Regions from separate parts of the Homo sapiens genome. Here region 2 is linked to region 1. Evidence: fine-mapped expression QTL. A gene starts in region 1. The other region holds a variant in brackets. All regions are shown on one strand. Distances are between the middles of the regions. Region 1 holds the start of CARD6 (caspase recruitment domain family member 6). Region 2 has its middle 14 kb from the start of SNORD72.

Region 1 (5,393 bases):
ATTGCTTAAACCGAGGAGTTCGAGACCAGCCTGGACAATGTAGTGAAACCCTGTCTCCACAAAATTTTTTTTTTAAAAAGAGCTGAACAGGTTGGCGCAAGCCTATACTCCCAGCTGCTCAGGAAGCTGAGGGGGGAGGATTGCTTGAGCCCAGGAGTTTGAGGCTGCTGTGAGCTATGATTGCACCATTGCACTCCAGTCAGGGCAACAGAGTGAGACTCTGTTTCAAAACAAAACAAAAGGAAAACTTGTAGAAAGAAGTTTAAATTTCAGTGCTAAGTTTCCCACTTCAAGTGAACACTTTTTTCCCATTGGCTTTGAAATCTCAGAAAGGTTACTGTGAGAAAGGAGCATATTTAGGGTTGAGCATTGGAGAGGAGACTGGTGGTTTGGGACACCTGTTATTAAAGTACCTTCCTGGTCAAGTTGAACAACAACAACAAAAAATTGGCAATCTTTATGACAGTGCCAATCAAATTGTGGACATGAGGTGGGATGCATCACTTGAAAGCCATACTTTTGAGATACATATTTTAAAACTCTTACCTAGAGTATAATGGTGGTTACCAGAGAGAGGCTGGGAGTTGCGGGGAAGGGAAGGGTGCTGGTCAAAGGATACAAAGTCACAGACAGGAGGAATAAATTATAAGTATTGAAGGTGATGTATATGTTAATTTGAGTGAATCATTCCATACTGCATACATATAAAATTACTGAATATCCCATAACTATATATGATTATAATTGGTCAAAGTAAATAAAAATTTTAAAACTCTTCAATTTTATAAAACTCTTACCTAATATTAATTTTTAATATCATATGAGGATTTTTTTTTTTAAGAGCCTAGGCTAGAGTAACTTACTACAACCTCAAACTTCTGGGCCGAAGCAGCTCTCCTGCCTCAGCCTCCTGTCCCAAGCAGCTGGGACTACAGATGCGCACCATCACGACCAGATAATTTTTAAATTTTTTGTAGAGACAGGGTCTTGCTATGTTGCTCAGGTTGGCCTCAAACTCCTGGTCTCAAGTGATCTTCCTCAGACTCCCAAAGTGCTGGGATTACAGGCATGAGCCACCTCGCCCAGCCAGGATTTTAAAATTCTTTTTTAACCTTGGAGATACCAGAATTGTATTACTCATTATCCTTGGTTCCTAATAGCATTGGTTCATGCATGTTCTGCTTTTATTTACATATTAGCTATTTACCTTTAACAATATAGTAGCCCTGATAGGCCCAACTCCTACATTGTAGGACATCCATGATCTCCTCCCCAATCCCATCCCATCCCCAAGCTCCCCATATGCGAGGTAACCATCATTCTGAATTTCATATTTATCATTCTTTGCTTTTTGTTTTGTATAATTTTAATGACTTCATGTATACTCTTAAATGTAAGGGTGTGTTTATTTTCAACTTTTAAAAAGGTTGTCATACTGTATATAATCTTTTGGGATTTACAGTTTTTCCTTACTATTGTTATGATTTCTCTATATTGTGGGTCACTGAAGTTCATTCTTTTTGAATGCCATGTAATATTATGTTATAAGAAATATCACAGTTTATTCATCCAGTATCCTGTTGCTAGTTATGCAGATCGCTTTCAGGTTCTTGTGAACTATGAAGGAGTAAATAAAGACCAACCAGGTAATTTTCTTAAAATAAATAATAATAAAAAACCAAAAATGTAAAATATTAAATAGTAATGTTTAAAGTGGAAGTATAAATCTCCCTGTAGTCATATTCTCAGAGATAACCAGTGTTAAAATTTGGGATATCTCTTGTCTTCTTTAAAATATAATGCATATCTGCATATACATATTATATACATATACTATATACACATTAAGTTTTTTAAAACAAAAATGAGATCTATAACTTGCTGTTTCCATAGCAATATATCATGGATATCATTACTTGTCAATATGTAGAGATGTACTTTATCCTTTTTAACAGTTCTTTGGTGTTTCACTGTCGACATGTCAATATTTATTCCCTAAACCCCAACTTTGGTTATTTTCAATTTTGTACTGTTGTAAACAATGTTGTAATGCAGATTCTTGTACATACATCTTCGGGCATTTGCTCAATTATTTCCTTAAGATAATTTCCTAGAACTGGAATTGCTGGGTTGAAGGATATGAAGTTTTATTTTTGTCTGTCTTCAACTTTATTTATTTATTGCTGTATATTGCCATATTGCCCACCAAATATCAATTAATAATTTACATTCTTGGCATCATAGTATAGTTCTCTGAGCAGGGAATACCTAGTCCAACCTGAAGTTCAAGAGCGACTTCTTGGAGGAGGTGACCCTGGGTCTGAGTCATGGTGAGAATTTATCAAGACTTCAAAAGAGCAGATAAATAATCCACAAGGACCCCGGATCAGAGAGTGCTCCGAGCTGGGTTGCCCCACTGTGCTTGTATCTGCACTCTCCAACACTAGGCATCATTGACATGTTAAAGCTTAGCCAAATAGAATTGTTCTTTGTCATTCTTTTTTTAACTTTTACTTATTCATTAGGATGATTTCATAATATATTTCCTGGTTTAGAGGAAACAGGAACAATGGCTACCGAGAGTACTCCCTCAGAGATCATAGAAAGAGAAAGAAAAAAGTTGCTTGAAATCCTTCAACATGATCCTGATTCTATCTTAGACACGTTAACTTCTCGGAGGCTGATTTCTGAGGAAGAGTATGAGACTCTGGAGAATGTTACAGATCTCCTGAAGAAAAGTCGGAAGCTGTTAATTTTGGTACAGAAAAAGGGAGAGGCGACCTGTCAGCATTTTCTCAAGTGTTTATTTAGTACTTTTCCACAGTCAGCTGCCATTTGCGGCTTAAGGCATGGTAAGTTGACTTTGTATACTTTTTGGGGTGAGAGGAAGGGGGCAGACTTTCTGAAAAAGAAAACAAAATGAAAGAAAATTGTTGCCTTTTATTTTTGTTAGTCTTTTTCTGGAGATAATTTTCATTGAAATATGAAATAGGGAAAAACTGGAATTTAAAAAGTTTCTGAAATTTAACATCTTATTGGTCTACTGAATCGATAATTTGTTTTTCAGACTGTACTCAAAACTTGAAGTTGTTTTAGTGCTAACAAACTGCTCATTATTCTGGCAGTAACATGCTAAAATCTCACAGTTGGAAGGAAAATACTTTAATAATAACACAATCCAGGGTTTGTTTTTCAAGTAGATGAATTCGTGGATATTTACAGTGCCAAGACCACAAGCTGTATCTTTCACTTAGTATAGCCGTTTTGAAAATACAAGGAAAATAATTTTTAACACATAGATGGCAAATCAGTAGTTTCATTTTTTTGGTGATAAGAATGCCAGCAGCAGCTGTTTTCTGGAGCAATTCCAGTGCTAATTCTTAAATGGTTCAAAGATAACTAGTAGTCCATGAAAAAGCAATTCTTCCAGTTATTTAGCAATTCTGTAAATTACTACTAGGACTAGGTCTAGCTCTTTTTCTAGGAATCTAAAAAAAAATTCAAAATTATTTTAAGGGATGTTAGAGAGGTAGAGGCTCAGATAAAAAGGTGAATGTTAGTGATACCTAATTTAGGACAAGATTTATATGCTTAGAAATTTTTCTTTTATTATTTCTAAAGCACACTATTCCAAATAGAGCCATTTGCTTACTGATTAGAAATTATTTGTGATCAGATTTCATTAGCAATGACCCCAAGAGACGTGAGTCTGTTGTGAGTCACAGTAAGTCCACAAGTAAACACTGTTCATATGATTCAAATTTTTCGTTTTATTCACTTACCCTGTAAGGTTGCTAGGAAGGACTCAAACTTTAAGCAAGACAGTGGTGTGATCTGATTTTTTTTTTTAGTGGAAAAAAGAAAGTTCTGAAAGTTGACATGTTGACATGCAAGTTATATAGGAGGTGTTAGGTATTCCTGTCCTCCAGTGAAATAAGAGGTGGCTGGGCGCTGTGGCTCACACCTGTAATCCCAGCACTTTGGGAGGCCGGGGCAGATGGATCACCTGAGGTCAGGAGTTTGAGACCAGCCTGACCAACATAGTGAAACACTGTCTCTACTAAAAATACAAAAATTAGCTGGGCATCATGGCGCATGCCTGTAATCCCAGCTACTTGGGAGACTGAGGCAGGGGAATCACCTGAACCCGGGAGGTTGAGGTTGCAGTGAGCCCAGATCGTGCCATTGCACTCCAGCCTCGGCAACAAGAGTGAAACTCTGTCTCAAAAAATAAATAAATAAATAAAAGGAGAGGGATGAAGCTTTGAGGCCTCAGGAACTCTAGCTGTTATACAGCTTCTTTTTCTTAATTGGGAAAAACAATTCTTTTCTTTGCAGAAGTTTTAAAACATGAGAATACAGTACCTCCTCAATCTATGGGGGCAAGCAGTAATTCAGAAGATGCTTTTTCTCCTGGAATAAAACAGCCTGAAGCCCCTGAGATCACAGTGTTCTTCAGTGAGAAGGAACACTTGGATTTGGAAACCTCTGAGTTTTTCAGGGACAAGAAAACTAGTTATAGGGAAACAGCTTTGTCTGCCAGGAAGAATGAGAAGGAATATGACACACCAGAAGTCACATTATCATATTCAGTTGAGAAAGTTGGATGTGAAGTTCCAGCAACTATTACATATATAAAAGATGGACAGAGATATGAGGAGCTAGATGATTCTTTATACTTAGGAAAAGAGGAATATCTAGGATCTGTTGACACCCCTGAAGATGCAGAAGCCACTGTGGAAGAGGAGGTTTATGATGACCCAGAGCACGTTGGATATGATGGTGAAGAGGACTTCGAGAATTCAGAAACCACAGAGTTCTCTGGTGAAGAACCAAGTTATGAGGGATCAGAAACCAGCCTTTCATTGGAGGAGGAACAGGAGAAAAGTATAGAAGGTATGGAAATATCTTGTATAGTTAGTTAGGCAACAACTTAATAAGTTAATAAGCTTGCCATGACATAATGGGGATGGGGGATGAAAAAGGGACAGATGTCAGCAGAAAATCAACTACTAAGAAATTCCTCGTGCCTCTCTGACCTGGAATCTCCTCGAGGTAGGTGTTGACTTAAAGGAGCTCCCAGGACCTAGGAAATGATGGACAGCATAAGCAAAAGTAAATATTGATTGTCAGTTTGTAAATTTCTGTAGTTCGTATAAGGAGTTGCCAATCATTAATTTCCCATTATACGTACGAGGAGTTGCTAATCATTAATTTCAGGCTAACCTATTTCTCAGGTTAAACCACTTTAGTTATTTTAGTGCCTTTGTGACCAGAGAGATATGGGGATTATGGGTTTGACTATTTAAGTGAAAACAGTCAGTAAATGGCTAAGATCCCAAAATATTGTTACTTGGCTTGATCCAGTCCACATAATGCCATCTTGATGAGAA
Region 2 (5,393 bases), 22 kb before region 1:
CTATTCTTACACTTTATAGTTTGGCTGGATATATATATATATAGGGTTTTAAGTTGGAAAACATTTCCTTCAGAATTTTGAAGGTATTGCTCCATCGTCTTCTAATTTCTCTTATTCTTTCTTTTCAAAGTTAAGTTTACTGAAGTATAATTTACATACAGTAAAATTCACCCTAAGTGTAGAGTTTTATATATATATATGTATGTGTATATATATGTGTGTATATATATATGTGTATATATATATATGTGTGTGTGTGTATATATATTTTATTAATTTTTTTTTAAGTAAAGACGGAGTCTCACATTGTTGCTCAGGCTGGTCTCGAACTCCTGAGCACAAGTAATCCTCCTGCCTCGGCCTCCCGAAGTGCTAGGATTACAGATTTGAGCCACCCTGCCTGGCCTAGGTGTAGAGTTCTATGAGCTTCAAAAAATGTATATAGTTGTGGCCAGGTGCAGTGGCTCATGCCTGTAATCCCACACTTTTGGAGGCCAAGGCGGGCAGATCACCTGAGGTCAGGAGCTCGAGACCAGCCTGACCAATATGGAGATACCCCTCTCTACTAAAAATATAAAATTGGCCAGATGTGGTGGCACATGCCTGTAATCCCAGCTACTAGGGAGGCTGAGGCAGGAGAATCACTTGGACCCGGGAGGTGGAGGTTGCGGGGAGCTGAGATTGCGCCATTGCACTCCAGCCTGGGCAACAAGAGCAAAACTCCATCTCAAAAAAAAAAAAAGAAAGAAAAAAGAAAAGAAACTGTATATAGTTGTGTAAATTCCATAATAAAGATATGAAATACCTCCATCACCCAAAAACATTCCCTTATGCCTTTTTGATTTCTGTCCCTCTAGTTTTGCCTTCTTCAGAATGTCATATAAAGAGAATTGTGGCCAGGTACAGTGGCTCATGCCTATAATCCCAGCATTTTGGGAGGCCAAGGCAGGTGGTCCATTTGATGTCAAGAGTTCGAGACCAGGCTGGGCGTGGTGGCTCACGCCTGTAATCCCAGCACTTTGGGAGGCCAAGGCGGGCAGATCCCAAAGGTCGGGAGTTGGAGACCAGCCTGGGCAACATGGCAAAATCCCGTTTCTACTAAAAATACAAAAATTAGCCGGGCCTGGTCGTGGGTGCCTGTAATCCTAGCTACTAGGGAGGCTGAGGCAGGAGAATTGCTTGAACCCAGGAGGCAGAAGTTGCAATGAGCGAGATCATACCATTGTACTCCAGCCTGGGCAACAGAGTGAGACTCCATCTCAAAAAAAAAAAAAATAGTTCAAGACCAGCCTGGCCAATATGGTGAAACCCTATCTCTACTAAAAATACAAAAATTAGGTGGGCATGGTGGTGAGCACCTGTAATCCCAGCTACTCCAGAGGCTGAGGCAGGAGAATTGCTTGAATCCAGGAGGCGGGGGCTGCAGTGGGTCAAGATCTTGCCACTGCACTGCACACCAGCCTGGGAGACACAGCAAGACTCTGTCTGAAAAAAAAAAAAAAAAAAAAAAAAAAAGGACCTGTACAGTATGCAGCCTTTTGTATCCAACTCCTTTCACTTAGCATAATCCTTTTGTTTTGAGACTCATCCATATTGTGTTGCATGTATCAGTAGTTCATTTATTTTTATTGATGAATAGTATTCCATTGTATGCATATACCAAAATTTGTCCATTCTCTACTTACAATGTTTAAGTTGTTTCCAGTTCTTGGAGCAGGAATAGCCTTCTATAAACATTCACACACAAGACTGTGTTTTCATTCTTCTCGAGTAGATATAGTTAAGAGTGGGATTGCTGGGGTTGTATAGTAAATGTATTGTTCACTTTATAAGAAACAGCCGCATTAAAAATTTTTTATTTCAATAGTTTTTAGGGTCCAGGTGGTTTCTGGTTACATGGATACATTCTTTAGTGGTGATTTCTGAAACTTTAACGCACCCATCACCCAAGCAGTGTACAGTGTACCCAATATACAGTCTTTTATACCTAATTTTCCTCCTGAACTTCCCTGATAAGTCCCCAAAGTCCATTACATCATTCTTATGCCTTTGCATCCTCATAGATTAGCTGCCACTTATAAGTGAGAACATATATTTGGTTTTTCATTCCTGAGTTGCTTCACTTAGAATAATGGCCACTAGCTCCATCCAAGTTGCTGCAAAAGACATTATTTCATTCCTTTTTATGGCTGAGTAGTATTCTACTGTGTATATAAAACACATTTTCTTTATCCACTCGTTGGTTGATGGGCACTTAAGTTGGTTATCTTTGCAATTGCGAATTGTGAGAAACAGCCAAATTTTTTTCAAAGTGGCCGTATCATTTTTCATTTCTACCAGCAAAGAATTTCTCATTGGCACTTGATATTGTCATTGTATATTTTTTATTTTAGCCATTCTAGTAGATGTGCAATATTATTCCATTGTATTTCAATTTGCATTTCCCTAAGGACTAATGATGTTGAGCATCTTTGCATCTGTTTATTTGCCATGCATATTTATTATTTGATGAACTATCTGTTCAGATATTTTGCCCATTTAAAAAAATTGGTTTTGGCCAGGCTCGGTGGCTCACGCCTGTAATCCCAGCACTTTGGGAGGCCGAGGCGGATGGATCATGAGGTCAGGAGATCGAGACCGTCCTGGCTAACACGGTAAAACCCCGTCTCTACTAAAAATACAAAAAAAAAATTAGCCGGGTGTGGTGGCAGGTGCCTGTAGTCCCAGCTACTCAGGAGGCTGAGGCAGGAGAATGGCGTGAACCCAAGAGGCAAAGCTTGCAGTGAGCCGAGATCGAGATCATGCCACTGCACTCCAGCCTGGGTGACAGAGTGAGACTCTGTCTCAAAAAAAAAAAAAATGTTTTTTGTTTTCTTTTCTTTTTTTTTTTTTTTGAGATGGAGTCTCACTCTGTGCAGTGGCATGATCTCCACTCACTGCAACCTCCGCCTCCCAGGTTCAAGTGATATGTATGTGTATATATATATATATATATATATACATATCATACATGTATTTATATATTTTCTCCAAACCTTTTTATTTTCTTGTGTCTTTTGGAAAACAGAGAGTTTAGTTGTGATAAAGCCCAATTTATCATTTAAAAAAATAGATAGTGCTTTTTATGTCGTATCTAAGAAATCTTTGCCTAACCCTAAGTCACAAAGATTTTCTCCTGTTTTTCTCATAGGTTT[T/C]TAGAATTTTAGGTTTTACATTTATATCGTTGATCCATCCTGACTTAGTGGTACAAGTCAAGGTTTGAGAGTCTTTTAATTTTATTAAAAATATTTTTTCTGTTCACCTGCAGTTCCATGCAGAGATTCTACTTATTTATTTATTTAACTCTGTTAAGTCTCAGAACAGAGACTCTATTTTTATTTTATTTTTGCATATGGATGTCTAGTTGTTCCAGTACAATTTGCTGAAAAGATTATCCTTTCTTGATTGAATTACCTTGACATCTTTGTCAAAAATCAATGACCATATTTCTGTGAGCCTATATCTGGATTCCATTATGTTTCACTGGTGTATATATCTATTATTACACCAATACTCACTATCTTGACTACTGAAGCTAGTAAAGCCTTGGTTGTTTTTGTTTGTTTGTTTGTTTGTTTGTTTGAAGAGCTGTTTTACTATTCCATTAAGATATGCCATAATTTATTTAACTCAACCTCAACCTCTACTTAGGGGATTTAGTTGTTTCTACTTTTCTTTTTCTTTTCTTTTCTTTTCTTTTTTTTTTTTTTTTTTGAGACACAGTTTCACTCTTGTTGCCCAGGCTGGAGTGCAATGGCATGATCTCAGCTCACTGCAACCTCCACCTCCCGGGTTCAAGCGATTCTCCTGTCTCAGCCTCCTGAGTAGCTGGGATTACAGGTGCCCACCACTACGCCCAGCTAATTTTGGGTATTTTTAGTAGAGAGGGGTTTTCACCATGTTGGCCAGGCTGGACTCCTGACCTCAGGTGATCCACCCACCTCAGCCTCCCAAAGTGCTGGGATTACAGGTGTGAGCCACCGTGCCCAGCCTTCACTTTTCACTCTTGTTGCCCAGGCTGGAGTGCAATGGTGCGATCTCGGCTCACTGCAGCTCTGCCTCCTGTGTTCAAACGATTCTCCTGCCTCAGCCTCCCAAGTAGCTGGGATTACAGGTGCCTGCTACCATGCCCGGCTAATTTTCTGTATTTTTAGTAGAGATGTGGGTTTTCACCATGTTGGGTAGGCTGGTCTTCTAGTGATCTACCCACCTTGGCTTCCCAAAGTTCTGGGATTACAGGCATGAGCCACGCCTGGCCAGTTGTTTCTACTTTTCTACTTCCTTTTTCTTTTTTTCTTTTCTTTTTTTTTTTTTTTTTTGAGACAGAATCTCACTCTGTCACCCAGGTTGGAGTGCAGTAGCATGCTCACAGCTGCAGCCTCAACCTCCTGGGCTCAAGTGATCCTGCCACCTCAGCCTCCCTGGTAGCTGGGGCTACAAGTATGTGCTATGATGCCTGGCTAAATTTTGTATTTTTTGTGGAGATGGGGTTTCGCCATGTTGTCCAGGCTGGTCTTGAACTTCTGGGTTCAAGCAATCTGTCTACCTTGGCCTCCCACAGTGCTGGGATTACAGGCATGAGCCACCACATCCTGTAATCCCAGCACAGCTGCTCTATTTTCTTGTATTATAAATAATACAGCAACAAATTTCCATGGGTAAAACATTGTGTCTTTGTGATAGTGTACATGTTTAGCATTTGGGAATGCTGGTCCAATGTTTCCCAAAATTTCCTCCTAGTTATTAGGTCTAGTTTCAGGTCCAGGCCCACTTGCATCAGCTGTATCATGTAATCAACCAAGCTGTGTGTGGCTGTGTTCTAAGGCACTATGTCTGATCTTAAACAGTGTGCCTTACCTACTAGCTCTATGTTAAAGATTCCCTACTTTCTTCCCTCTTTGGTCAGTTCATGCAAGCCATAGAAAGGTACTTCCTTAAGAAAACAAAAATAAGATGCCCTTTTAGAGTTGAAAAAGTGTGTGTCAGGTCATCAAGGATATTCTGCCTGCTTGACAATTATTTTTGATCATTAGCAAACCAGTGTTCAAACAAGTTTTGATTGGGAGTGAATCACTTTGCTGATTAATCACTGAGGCAAGTTGTAAAACTATTCTTCGTCTGTTTGGGCTGCTGTAACAAAATACCATGAACTGGGTAGATTATTCTTAGGCTATTCTTGCATTTCTATAAAGAAATACCTGAGATTGGGTAATTTACAAAGAAAAGAGGTTTCATTAGCTCATAGCTCTGCAGGCTGTACAGGAAACATGGCAACGACATCTGCTCAGCTTCTGGGGAGGCCTCAAGGAGCTTTTACTCATGGTGGAAGCCAAAGCGGGAGCAGGCATCTTACA

The links. PIP is the estimated chance that this variant, and not a neighbour inherited with it, causes the effect.
Region 2: its variant is the best candidate, but not a certain one, in a credible set for the expression of CARD6 in whole blood (TOPMed, PIP 0.64).

What each region holds. Positions count from the first base shown.
Region 1 is chr5:40,838,814-40,844,206 of GRCh38, forward strand. CARD6 (caspase recruitment domain family member 6) reads left to right here and starts at 2,554. Exons shown (of 3, transcript NM_032587.4): 1 at 2,554-2,852; 2 at 4,339-4,896. The coding sequence starts at 2,570.
Region 2 is chr5:40,816,498-40,821,890 of GRCh38, forward strand. No RefSeq gene overlaps it. Among named protein-coding and RNA genes, the nearest start is that of SNORD72, 14 kb to the right of the region's middle. The variant T/C (reference allele first, on the strand shown) is at 3,195.